3 separate regions of the Homo sapiens genome follow, and all the other regions are linked to region 2. The links come from fine-mapping of genetic effects on gene expression. A gene starts in region 2. Each other region holds a variant in brackets. All regions are shown on one strand. Distances are between the middles of the regions. Region 1 has its middle 37 kb from the start of NMNAT3. Region 2 holds the start of NMNAT3 (nicotinamide nucleotide adenylyltransferase 3). Region 3 has its middle 120 kb from the start of CLSTN2.

Region 1 (4,241 bases), 36 kb after region 2:
ACCATTTCATTGGGAAAATGAACATCATTTACATTTTACTTTTAAAACACTGACCTCTAAGCAGCACAGTGTGTTTGCCAAGAAGCCAAGAGGAGGAAAGGATGAAGGAAGTATAAGGAAGAGCAAAGGACAAGAGACAATTTTCTTGTCTCTAGAGAGCTATGTTTCCATATTCACTAGACCATAAACTTTGTCCAAGTCTCTGTTTTTTTCTTTTTAGGGTAAAGCGGAATTCTGAGATTAAAAATATCTTTGGGTGAATTTGAATGATTAAACATCATTCATTCATTCAACACTTATATATTGAGTGCCAAGTAGCCAACACTGCGCTGAGCAAGGAATTTGATTTATTTCAAGTTTTCATTAGTCACTTGTTCCCATAAGAAAAATGGGCACCTACAACCTTGAAATCTTAAATAATGCAAATATGGCTTTGTGAAAATGAGCCATGGGAAGCAGAAGAACTTTCAAAGAAGGCAGACCATACAGCAAACGTGCTGCCCAATGGCACCAATTTGATATGGGGTAGAAGTGATGAAAGTTTTTAATACTTTGGCTTCTTTCTTCAGAGCTCACTCTACTTAGGGGTGGGGGAGACACATAACAACAGAGCATGATCGATACCCAGCTAGAGATATGAGCGAGACATGGTGGACACATGGAGGAGAAGAGGGTTAGCTCTGACCAGAGAGAGGTAGGGATAGCCTTGCTGGGGAGTTGAGTCAAGTTAGGCCTTGAAGGGTGATAGGAGGCTTGGAGAACACTTGTGTGTATGGAATTATGGGATTTCATTTTATCTTATTATTTTTGAGACAAGGTCTTACTTTGTCACCAAGTCTGGAGTGCAGTGGCACGATCATGGCTCACTGCAGCCTCAACCTCCTGGGCTCAAGCAATCCTCCTGCCTCAGCCTCCAGAGTAGCTGGGACTACAGGCACATGCCACCCTACTTGGCTAATTAAAAAAAATTTTTTTTTAATTTTTTAATTAAATTTTTTTTTTTTTTGTTAAGATGGAATCTCCCTGTGTTGCCCAGGCTGGTCTCAAACTTTTCATTATATGCCTACACACAAAAACACACACTCACACACCTACTCCCTACCCACATATGCACATGTGACATGTATACAGGAAATAGGGTCAACTTAGAGTTCAGATGGGTGACTTTATGAACAAGTGACTGGAAGATACAGCTAGCACGACTTGGCAAGGACCTAATTGTGTTTTGGAAAATGAAGGCTGGGAAACATGGCCTTGGTACCAAAATCTCACAAATCACCACTAAAGAACTTACTCATGTAACCAAATACTATCTGTTCCCCAAAAACCTATGGAAATAAAAAAATTAAAAAACAAACAAACAAAACAAACTAGATGCTTGCCTCTTGATTCCCAACTTGAGGGGCTAGGAGCAGAGAGTGTGGTGGCAAGATTTGAACCTACGTCTTGTCCTACTTCTCACTTCTGCTGTAGGAAGAATGACTGTCTTCTGGAGAAGTCAGGAGTCACTATAAGGTGTCTGGGGTATTCTGAGAACTTCTGACAAGCAGGAGCTGCCTTGTGGCAGAGGGAGCCCCTCCTGATGCAGACTGGCATTTCTGTGTCCTGTTCAAGCGGTTCCAGAGAGATCCAGACATTGGTGGGTGCCTTGCTTGAAAAGAATTGTTTTCAGATGGGGTTGCTGACCTCCAGACTGCTATAAAACTTATCAGGATGCTGGTAGAAACCCCAAAGCACCTCAGTCTCTGGCTCAAACCTAGCTTCAGAGGACCAATCTTATTAAGTATACGAGGATGTGTAGAGCCAGGCTTTCATCACAATGGTCTGAGTTTGAAGCCCAATTGTCCCACCTATAGATGGATGACTATGAGCAAATAACTTAACTTTTCGGAACCTGTTTTCTCATCTGTAAAAAGGGCTAAGAGTATCTATGTCATAGAGCTGTCAAGAGGATCAAATGAAGTAGCTTGCATATTTCCTGAAACATGGCAAATGCTTAATAAATGATAGCTAGCTGGATGTCAAAAGAAAAAGCTGCAGAGTAAAGGTGGTGCTTGAAAGATGAATAGATGTTTGCTAGGCAGCTATGCTGGCAGGGCTTCCGAGTGGGAGGGAGCAGTTGAACAAAGGCCCCGAGGC[G/A]TGAAATAGCCTGACATTTCAGGAAGCTATAAGTGGTTTGGTTTGGCTGGAGCATAATGTAGGGGAGAAGAAGGACATGCATTGTTTGTGGCACACATATAGATAGTTAATTATAGATAGACTTAAGTGGTTCGCTAATTGCCTCACCTATGTGTCTGGTCATCTGGAGAAGATAGCTATTTCCCTGTTGCTGGAGGCTCCTGTCTCGTGGTCAGCTTGGTGGCTAGACCAGGCCAGGTGTCCTTGAGAAGGACTGTCTCTTCACGTTCTGGGTTTAGCCATCAGCACAGTAAGCCATGGCTGAAAGGAGGTTTATTTTGGGGTAGTCCACCTGTATCCCTGTCCCTGAGGCACTCCAACCCACTCCCAGCCAGAGCCCTCTACTGCCTCTTTGCAAGCTGGAGGCAGGTTGCATTTGGGGCATCACTTGACCTCACTACTTTTTCAGCCACTGCCCACCATCTAGTCCCAAGGCCAATATAACTAGTTTTGATTTTCTTTTACAGCAGCAGTCCAATCCTAGTACCACTTCTGTATTTGGGTTCAGTCAGATAGGTGGAGCCACTGTGTATGTCACGGGAAAAGGGATTTACTATAAGAATTAGACTTTACACAATTGCGAAAAAAAATTTGGGAAGTGAAGATTCATGTTATGGGCTGAATTGTGGTCCCTCCTTGAATTCATATGTTGAAGTTCTAACCCCAGTACCTCAGAATCTGACTGTATTTGGAGACAGGGTCTTTAAAGAGGTAATTAAGGTAAAATAAATCACTAAGATGGGCCCTAATCTGACTGGTGTCTTTATAAGAAGAAATTAGGACACAGACACACACAGAGGAAAGACCACGTAAAGACAAAGAGAATACAGCCATCTAGAAGCCAAGATAAGAGGCCTCTGAAGAAACTAATGCTACTGATACTTTGATCATGAACTTCTAGGCTCCAGATCATGAGAAAATCAATTTCTTCTGTTTAAGCTAACTGATCTGTGGTACTTTGTGGTGTAAGCCCTAGCAAACTAATGCAGTTTAAAGGGGAATTTGGAGAATCATAGTCACCATCCATCCTCCTCAAGCCCTGACATGGATGGGCAAGTTGGAACTTGCAGGGAGAATCTGAGAAGTCAGGCAGGTCCAAATGTTGAAGTGGAAATGTGAGGTGGGATTCATGGAAAGGTATGTGGGAAGCTGTTGAATCTCTGCAGCTGCTATTTCTGTGGTAACCAGGCATCTGGTAGTGGGTGTGGAACCACTGTTGGTGATTAGAGCTAGAAACGGGATGAGAACAAGTTGAAACCCATCAGGCACCTCTCTGTCTTTCTGTTACATTTCTGACTTCAAAGACGTTTAGGGAGAAACAGTTACTGCTTCACTTCCACTTCCCAAGTCTTGTGAAAGTTCTGCTTTTAGCCAACTTGAACTTGGAGCCATAGAGAAAAGGAGATTCTGAGCTTTCAACTTGACCCAGTTGACAATAGAATGGTGCAGCTCATTAACCCTTTGAGATGCTCTGGAAGAGACAGAGAGAGAGAGAGAGAGAGAGAGAGAGAGAGACTGTAAGATCTAACAGGTTGCATACATACCCAAAACTATAATCCTCATCATTTACACATTAAAGGCTCTTAGAAGTCTGGCTGAAAGGAACCCATATAATTTTGATCAAGCTTTTCCCAAACGTTTTTGACTACTCAGCCTTCTTTCTCCTGAGCATAGCCATATTAACAACCTGAAAGCTTCAGAATGGATGTTGGCAACTGCTCCTTGATGGCAGCCCTGTCAATCAGTTATTCTCTATGCTGTTCAACCCCCTTTATGTCCATGCCCCACCTCTTAGGTAGCAGTTCCTCCCTCAGAGGGATCTTCTACCCAAGGGTTCTCTTTTTGCCTCCTCTTGCTAGCTAGCTCCTGTCCTACCTGAAGGCTGTACAACCTCAACCCTGAGCCTAAAGCCCACCCTATTCTCCCAGCAACCCACAGCATGTTGCATGAGACAGGGCAGAGCAGTGATGGGCAGGTCAGGTGTGGTGATGTGTGTGGTGGAGGTACTCTGGAAGAACATGGCCAATGAGTTCCTAGCTGCCTGCTCTTCAACACAATTTGTT
Region 2 (4,241 bases):
CTGAAACCTAAAATGCTCTCCCAAATCCATGGGGTCTCAAGGTCTGACACGTCCTTAGCAAGGTCCCAGCATAGTTGCTGCTTCTGGGAAGTCTTCTGTCCAGTTTTAAGAGGTGACACCAAAAGCTGAGAACCACCAATGAAATTCAAGAAGTAACTGATGCTCAGTGGAGCTGTGTGAACCATACCTTCAGGGGCTCCTGGGTGGCTTTCTGAGAAAAACAGAGAAGCTTTCCCCTGCAAGGCCAGTGGGTAAGAACCCTTTCTCTGGGTTGTGCCAGGGTGGAACTGTCACTTTATTTCACCTGGCCCACCGGACATGGGCTCCAGGAGGGCAGGGCCCCTGTCTGATTTCTCTCTGAATCCTCAGAGCCAGGGTAAAGTGGGCGCCAGTTAAATGTTTCAAGAATGAACAACTAAACCAGTCATCATTTTAGAGAACAGGCTGTTTGAGAGATTCTACTCAGAACCACTTATTTGATAGAGGAAGAAACAGGACTCAAGGAGAGGGGAAGTGACTTTGCTGAGAGGCAGGCACACTGTGTTTAGTCCAGAACAACATCAAGCCTTGGATGTTTAGTGCAGAGTAACATCCAGCACCCATCACGCAGTGCTAAGTCATTTACATTCACCATTTCCATTCTCAATGGGTAGAACAATCCCATTTTACAGAGGAGAACGTTAAGGTTAAGGAACTTGCTTTCCCCCCAGCTCTCTGCAGGCCAGCCCCACCAACCCTCCTTTCCTCAAGCCACATTCTCTCCCAACAAAATGAGTTTGCTCTGTTGTTCCCCGCCCGGGAATTCTCTAAAGTTTTAGTTCCAGCAGCCTTTGTAGCTGGGGGCCCTGATAAAATCTCTCCAGCACCCTAGAATTTCAATCTTCATAGCTCTGACCACAGTTTTAACGTTCACACTTGTTTGCATAGATATCCATTTGCTGTCGGTCTCCCCCCACTGGACTGTGAGCTGCACGGGGGAGGGCACCACATTTTTTGGCCTGCTACTGTAACCCCAGCACTTAGCCCAGCAGCGGACACTGAGTGGAACACGTTAAGTATTTGTTAGACACTGTGCTTATATTTTTAACCTTTGAGTGCACGAGTGCTAAAGGTGGGATCCGAACCCACGTCTCCGGGACTCTGGTCATAGCCAAAGGGGAGCTGGGGGTTAGGTTGACACGCTGCAGCGAGAACCGCCGGCGCGCAGAGGCAGCGCGGAGCTGTCCCCCCGGTTCGCGCCACCCCGGATGGCTCCGCACTCCGCCGCCACCTGTCGCCCCAGCGGGGACTCCCAGGACTCAGTTAGGGGCCAGGAGTCACGTGGGCCCGGGCATTCAGCCGCGATCCAGGTCCTAGTGGGCTGACGAGGGGCCCACGCTGCGCTTACCTGCTATTTGCAGGGCTCAGCAACGGCGCTCGGCGAGTCTCGGGGGACTGCGGGGGACTAGGGGACCTGCTGGGCCTAGCAGGGGCTGTCGGTCAGCGCGCGGCCCGGCGCCCGAGGTCCGAGAGGGAAACGACGTTTGGTCTCGGGACTCAAGGCTGCCTCCGGCCCGGGCAGCCTCAGGTCTAGATCCCCTAGTACCTGAGCTGGAGGCGGGGCCAAGGCGAACTTGACCTTGCGCTCCCTTAGCGGCCCCGGGCAGATGGAGTCTGAGGGAAACAGATCTGCGCCCCGCCCCTTCGCTGGGGCGGGCCCTAAGGAGACCCGGCCCTGGCCCCGCCCAGGGTCCTAAGCCCCGCCCTCTCCCCTGCCCCCGCCCCCGCCCGCTGGCTCCCAACCGCCAAGGCTCTTTTGTGTTGCGTGCGTGTTTGCTTTTTTATTCTCCTGTTTTGTATTCTGTTTGTTTTGTATTTTTATTTAATTTTCTTTTAAAAAAATACATGAAAGTAACGCCCACTTACTTATTAGAAAATAAAATTATCTAGATTTGCTTATAATGAAAGCAACAGGCCACTTCTCCCTCCCATCACAGCTCTTTTTAACAATTCCTCCGTTAATTTCTTCTAGTGGTCACCCGCTTGTCGCAAAAAAAAAATAAATAAATAAAATAAAAAAATAAAAAAAGAAACTTACATAGCGATTTCTTGATTTATCCATTGACTTTCTGCCATGTTATATGAGGATCTACTCTCTTACTGCGCGGCCCCTGTTTCCTTCTGACAAATTTACACCTCTATTCTCAAGCCCTGCCCTGGTAAACGCCAGACCTCAAAGCAGGGAAGGATTTCTGGGGCCTGAAGCATACACAGTTGTGTGGGGAGAAGGAAGGGAGGGCTGCTTAAGAAAGAGAAGACAGAATTAGGGCTTGCCAGTGAACATTTATTTGGAATGAGAAAATAAATCTTAACAGAATCCTGGGGTCTTAGAGATTGGGGTCCCTATCCCCTAAAACCTTCTTAGGAAATTTAGGTCCCAAATTTGCTTCCCTAACGCAGTCTGGCTTCCTCTGCCCACCCAGAACTCTCCATAAGCCCCCAGGGCTCATGGGAGCCTTGCAGAGAGAGGCCTTGAAGGACAAGATTCACTAGATTCTGCCAATACAGTTTCCTAATGGAGTGAATTGGAGTGTGCGAAAAAGAGAGACATCAAGGATGATGTCAAGGTTTTTTGATTGCTGTACACTTAATTTCCAGCGTTTCCTAGACACAGGAACACAACCTCATCTTAGTATGGAGAGTGTTTTATAAGCCTGTCCACATCACCAGAGCCTCACGGTGCACCCATGAAGTTGGCTGGACGGGTGCACTGTCCACAGTTTTAGGAGGCCCATAAATTTGTCCCTTGTGTATTAGCACCGGGGGCATGCAACTTGCACCCAATAAGTACCCAGGTAAATGGTACTTCCCCACTCAGTCTGAAGACACAGTGTCCGTGCCCTCTCGGATCCCTTTTCTCTTACCTGTGGTGTAAAATGTGGCTCCAGAAGGTGATCTTGGACAAGTCTCTTTACTTCCCAAGCCTCACTTTCCTTTCGTATAATGGGAGGTAACAACCCCTACCGCACTGAGTTTTGGGGAGGATTAAGTGGCTTAACATCTTTGGATATTCTTTAATTGATAAGTCAGCTTATTTCCCAGCAGGGTGGGAGGCTCATGAGAAAGCTTAGGGATTTCTGAGAATCTTGTGTAGCATGTAGTACCACAGGTTGATTAGAGGCCTTCGATTAAAATCGTGGGCTGAAGAGTCATTCTGGGTCAGGGCCCTAGGCCAGGGAGGGAGAAGCTGCACACAGAGAGCAGAGAAGAGGCTGGGCAATGACTTCCTCATGCAAGGGAAGCTTTCTCTGCCTGAGGTAGTGAAGACTAAAGCTTGGTCTAGGAGGAAGCCTGGTTTCCTAGGCAAGAAAAAAGGAATGAATTAATGGCATTCACAGCAACTGGATGAGATTGGAGAGTGTTATTCTAAGTGAAGTAACTCGGGAATGGAAAACCAAACATGGTATATTCTCATAAGTGGGAGCTATGCTATGAGGATGCAAAGACATAAGAATGACACAGTGGACTTTGGGGACTCAGAGGGGAAGAATGGGAAGGGAGTGAGAGATAAAAGACTACAAATTGGGTTCAGTGTATACTGCTCGGGTGATGGGTATACCAAAATCTTACAAATCTCCTCTAAGGAACTTACTCATGTAACCAAATACCACCAGTTCCCTAATAACCTATGGAAATAAAAATATTTTTTTAAAAAAGTAGCGTCCCCTTGTGCTGGAAGGTAAGAACCTCATATAATAGCCAAGCTTTACCTAACCTAAGCGGTGAAGACGCAATGGCTGAGAAATCCATTTTGGAGAGGCAACTACCTCCTAATTTTTTAGAAGGAGGAATACCTAAATGCAAGTCTTGTATTTGCTTAAGCTCACAAAAAGACTACTGGATTATGGGTATAATGGGAATAATATTTTCAGATCTCTCCTTTATTGGTAAGTTTCATTTCTCCTGGATCCTATCTGCCATTATGGCTCAAGGAAGGTGGCCACCTAATGCCACCTCAGGAAGGAGGAAGATTTTACATAGAGGATGTCTCAGCTTGAGTGCCTCAGAACCAGATCCTGAGGTAAGAATTAATGCAAGTAGTTATTTGAGAGGTACATGGAACACCAGCAGAGTAATGAAGAAGCAATACAGGGAAGAAAAGGGGAGCTCAATAAAAGATTAAGCCAGCTACTATAATAGATGTTTAGGGCTTAATCCTAGGGGAAAACCCTAGAAAACTGTGTGAAGAGCATGCCTTGGAA
Region 3 (4,241 bases), 130 kb after region 2:
AAGAATAAAATATTTTAAAACCATATTTCCTAGTTTTCTTCCTGGAAAAGATCTAGAAACAATGACCAACCAAATAGCAATGAGCACACCTAGAACTCAGATTGCGGTCTCCAAACATCACTTCCAACCAAAAGGAGTCAGAACTCTTTGGGGGAAATGTCTGGCTCTATGTCTGGGTCAAAGAATATTCCAGGTAAGCCTGAAACATCTTGATACACCAGAAATCAAGGAGTCAGTCAGGGTGGTGTTAAAAGTATTCAGAAGGAAACTTAAATAATCTCCCACTGGCCAAATAAGAGACAATTTGAGCTCAGTTTTCTGAGAAACAGTGTCTCCCATGCACTGAGAGAGGCAGAGAAGAGAGATGGAGGAACAGTACTTTCATGCTCCTGATTGTTTCCATTCCTGGTTTAGATCTTTGTGGTCTCCAGCTACATTCTTGTCTGTGGGTATTGAAAGCCAACTCACATCCTTAAAATAAATTTTCATTTCCTGTTTAATCCAGCCTCAGTTAGTGTTGGTTACTTGCAACCAAAGAGTACAGATAAACAGTGTAGAACTCTTCCATTAATTTACATCTTGCTTTGTTTGTTTGTTTTTGCAGTCTCCTTTGCCTAGGCTTCTGAATGTGTTTTCTCATTCAGAAGTTTTCTCCACTAGACTATGGAACAAGGGCTAGGCTCGGAATTACCAACCCCCTCCTCCCCAGGTACCAAACTGTCACTCTGTCCTGAAACTAAACTTGTGTGCTTTGAATTTCCCTTTTCTTTAGATGGATTGTTTCCTAGGAGACTTCCTAGGCCTCTCATGTAAACATGCCCTTGTTGGGCACAGCCTGACTGCACCCATGACAAATCTGAGGGGAGCACATTTTAGGATCAAGGTGTGGGTCTTTAGGAACCATGTCTCCTAAATTTTGCAGTAAATCCAGAGAGTACACAGGCTGAGTCAGCCACTTCCTGCCCCCTCCCTGATTATTCTTTACCCAGCATGGAGTAAATGCTTAAACTGTGCTTAGAGACTGATTGATTGGTTGATAGTTGAATAGACAGCCTCACATTTCTGATTTTTTTACCTCCAAGTGTCTTCCTTTACAAAACAGATACCTTGACATAATAAGAACTTATATTAGTTTAAAGTAATTGCTTATATTTTTCAAATTGCTCTGCTTGCTGTCTTCTAAAAGTGGCTAGAGTGCAATAAGGGAAGAGCTGTAAAAGCTGTCTATCACCAGATGTATTCTCTTATCTGCAGATATGAGTGGCTTCTAGTTTACAAGAAGCCTAATAATAAACTAGAACCCACATCACTGGCCAAAGGTAATAGGAAAAGGGAGTTTTCTGCTCTCAACTAGAGATAAACTTTTGATTGCTTAGGCTCTTGTTATGAAACCAAGTGGCAGAACATGCTGAGTACCTCTCTCCCCCAGAAAAATAGAACAAAAATTCCAGAATGTAGGCAAAACTCATCTTTGTGAATATTTCTGTCTCTCTCATCTCTAATGTTTAAGCCACTGAAGGGAAATGAGGCATGGGGCTCTCTGGAAGGGGACAGGCATGCAAATTAGGAAAAGAATCGATAAATTTTTGTGTGTTGAGTCCAAGAACTCTTGATCTCAAGATGTGATAGGGGAAAGAAGCATATAGGAATACATAAGGAAACAATTAATTGCCTTCCTTAAGTTGGAAGGTGAGAGCTGAGGCAGATGGAAGTCTCCACAGAAATCAGCCTTTATGGGTTTTCAATGTAGTTACTTTGGAAGAATATTAAGAGAGTAGGCAGCAGTTGTGGAAGTGATCAGGAGAGTGTAGGGGGTAATGAGGAAAGTCATGTTTTAGAGAAGCATTAGGACAGAGAGGAGCAATTTGCAGGCTTTTCTGTGCAGCCTAAATAACACCTTGTGTTTTCTCTGCAAAATGATCAAAGAAAGACAAGATTCAGAATGGAAGTCTCAACCACCCTAATGTCCAGCAAAGGCTCTGGCGATAAAAGATTCTGTGATTGTGAAATGGCTGAGGTGGCCACCCCTAGTTCTCTTCATCAAAGCCACCACACAGATGTTCAATAGAGGAAGACAGATGACCATCTGCAGATCATGATTGTGCTTTTCTGCTCAAAGAAGAACTAGTGAGGGGGGTCACCAGCCAGAACCAATGTGTTCACTTCAGCTGATGGAATGGCTAGGCAGTGCCTACAACCGTGTATAGAGGCTCTATTACTGGAA[AG/A]GGGTCCCAATTTAGACCCCAAGGGAGCGTTCTTGGATCTCACACAAGAAAGAATTCAGGCTGAGTCCATAGAATAAAACGAAAGCAAGTTTATTAAGGAAGTAAAGGAATAAAAGAATGGCTACTCCATAGGCAGAGTGGTTGCCCAGTTTTATGGTTATTTCTTGATTATATGCTAAACAACAGGTGGATTATTAATGCCTCCCCTATATAGGGTGGCTTCCTGACATTGCCATGGCATTTGTAAAGCGTCATGGGGCTGGTGGGAGTGTAGCAGTGAGGATGACCGGTGGTCACTCTTCTGTCACCATCTTGGTTTTGGTGGGATTTGGCTGGGTTCTTTACTGCATCCTATTTTATCCGCAAGGTCTTTATGACCTGTATCTTGTGCCGACCTCCTATCTCATCCTGTGACTTACTTAGAATGCTAACCACCTAGCAATACAGCCCAGTAGGTCTCAGCCTTGTTTTACCCAGCCCTTATTCAAGATGGAGTGGCTCTGGTTTAAACACCTTTGACAGTTCCAGTGAAGTTGTAGGGTACAGGGTTTTGAGGGTTGACTTAGTTCTCTCATCTTTCAGAATCAGCCTCCTCCCAGATAAAAAATATTTTCTGTGAAAGAAAAGATTTCAACTTTGAATGTAAGCTTCAGTTCCTGTCATCTGTAATATCAGGGTAATAATATGCCTAACTCATGAGGTTGATTAGATAAATAAAATGAAATGATCTAAAGCTCTTAGCACAATCCTTGGCACATATAGGTGCCATATGTTAGCCTTAATATTCGTACAAGTATTTAATGTTTTATTCAAGAGATTCCCTATCAATCAGGAAAATAGAAGTGATTCTAGATCTTTCAAGTAGAGAAATTTAACATAGGGCATTTGTTATACAGATAATGGAAGAGCTGAGAAGCCAAACTGTGGGACAGTGAGGAATTCCAGAGATTAGCAACAACAGGAAACTGCTATCATTTTAGTGCTGGAGCAACAATAGGAGGAGAGCTCAGAGGCCAGGGCCATCAAGCTGGCTTGAGAAACATGGTGGGGCCTGTCCAGTGGGAGGTGGGGCAATAAGGAAAGGATCTGTTTCTCCAGAGCTAGAATCACAGGAGAAAAGTAACCATTGCTACTATTCCCTACTGAGATACCACTGAAGTAACGCATGACAAGAAGAAATACCCTGCTCTCTTCATTCTTCCCACCCTCCAGCCTTCCACTTGTGTCTCCCACTAGCTGAGTCCACCCAGGAGCACATTGGCAAGAGAGCCTGAGAAGTATGGTTTTTTACCATACAGAGTAGAGCTGCAAAAGGGCATGGAGTGGACAGCCAACAAGCAAATGACCAGCATTCTTTACAAAGACTGGAGAGTTGACTGCTGCAATCCTTGGAAGATGGCAGCGGTGGTCTTTAGTTTTCCTAGCCTCTTTGGCCTTGAGCTTGTCCTCTGATGAATATTTTATGCTCAGCTTGCTCATTCAAGCCTGTTCTCAGAGAATTTCTTCCCTTTCAGGGTTCACTGGCTGGCAATAGTTTAAAAAGCTGCCTCTCAGGGAATTTACAGCATGGACCGAGACGATGAGGTTAGAAAGATATTCTAACAGTGACGTCTTAACATTTCAGGCTTTAGACACGTGAGAGGCTTTTTTCCTCTTTTTTTTTTAAACCCCAGGGTCTTCATTTGTAGAGTCCTGAGAATTGCAGCGCAAAACCTATGTTTTTTAATATTCAGATTGTTTCCTCCGTCATTACTATCCTGTGAGTAGAAAAACAGGGACTGATGTTCCTCAATTTAAAGAAAAGCATAGAATTGAAGAAACTCAATATGACAGATATAATTGATAGAGATGGAATTTGAGTCCACTTTTTCCTGACCTAAAGCCAAGCATCTTCCCACTCTGCATTGTGCCCTTCCCAAGGGAAATACAATGGGTTCAAGGGCAATGTCATTTATTGAAGTAGTCCATTCTTTCTCCCTGTAGAATGACTCCTTTTCACACATTAAATTCTCATAC

Evidence for each region. PIP is the estimated chance that this variant, and not a neighbour inherited with it, causes the effect. A credible set is the group of variants that fine-mapping cannot tell apart.
Region 1: its variant is the best candidate, but not a certain one, in a credible set for the expression of NMNAT3 in subcutaneous fat (GTEx, PIP 0.88).
Region 3: its variant is the best candidate, but not a certain one, in a credible set for the expression of NMNAT3 in NK cells (Gilchrist 2021, PIP 0.53).

The regions. Positions count from the first base shown.
Region 1 is chr3:139,712,641-139,716,881 of GRCh38, forward strand. No RefSeq gene overlaps it. Among named protein-coding and RNA genes, the nearest start is that of NMNAT3, 37 kb to the left of the region's middle. The variant G/A (reference allele first, on the strand shown) is at 2,140.
Region 2 is chr3:139,676,318-139,680,558 of GRCh38, forward strand. It overlaps NMNAT3 (nicotinamide nucleotide adenylyltransferase 3), which reads right to left and starts at 1,655. Exons shown (of 7, transcript NM_001401600.1): 1 at 1,388-1,655. RefSeq lists a silencer at 1,709-1,758.
Region 3 is chr3:139,811,052-139,815,292 of GRCh38, forward strand. No RefSeq gene overlaps it. Among named protein-coding and RNA genes, the nearest start is that of CLSTN2, 120 kb to the right of the region's middle. The variant AG/A (reference allele first, on the strand shown) is at 2,225.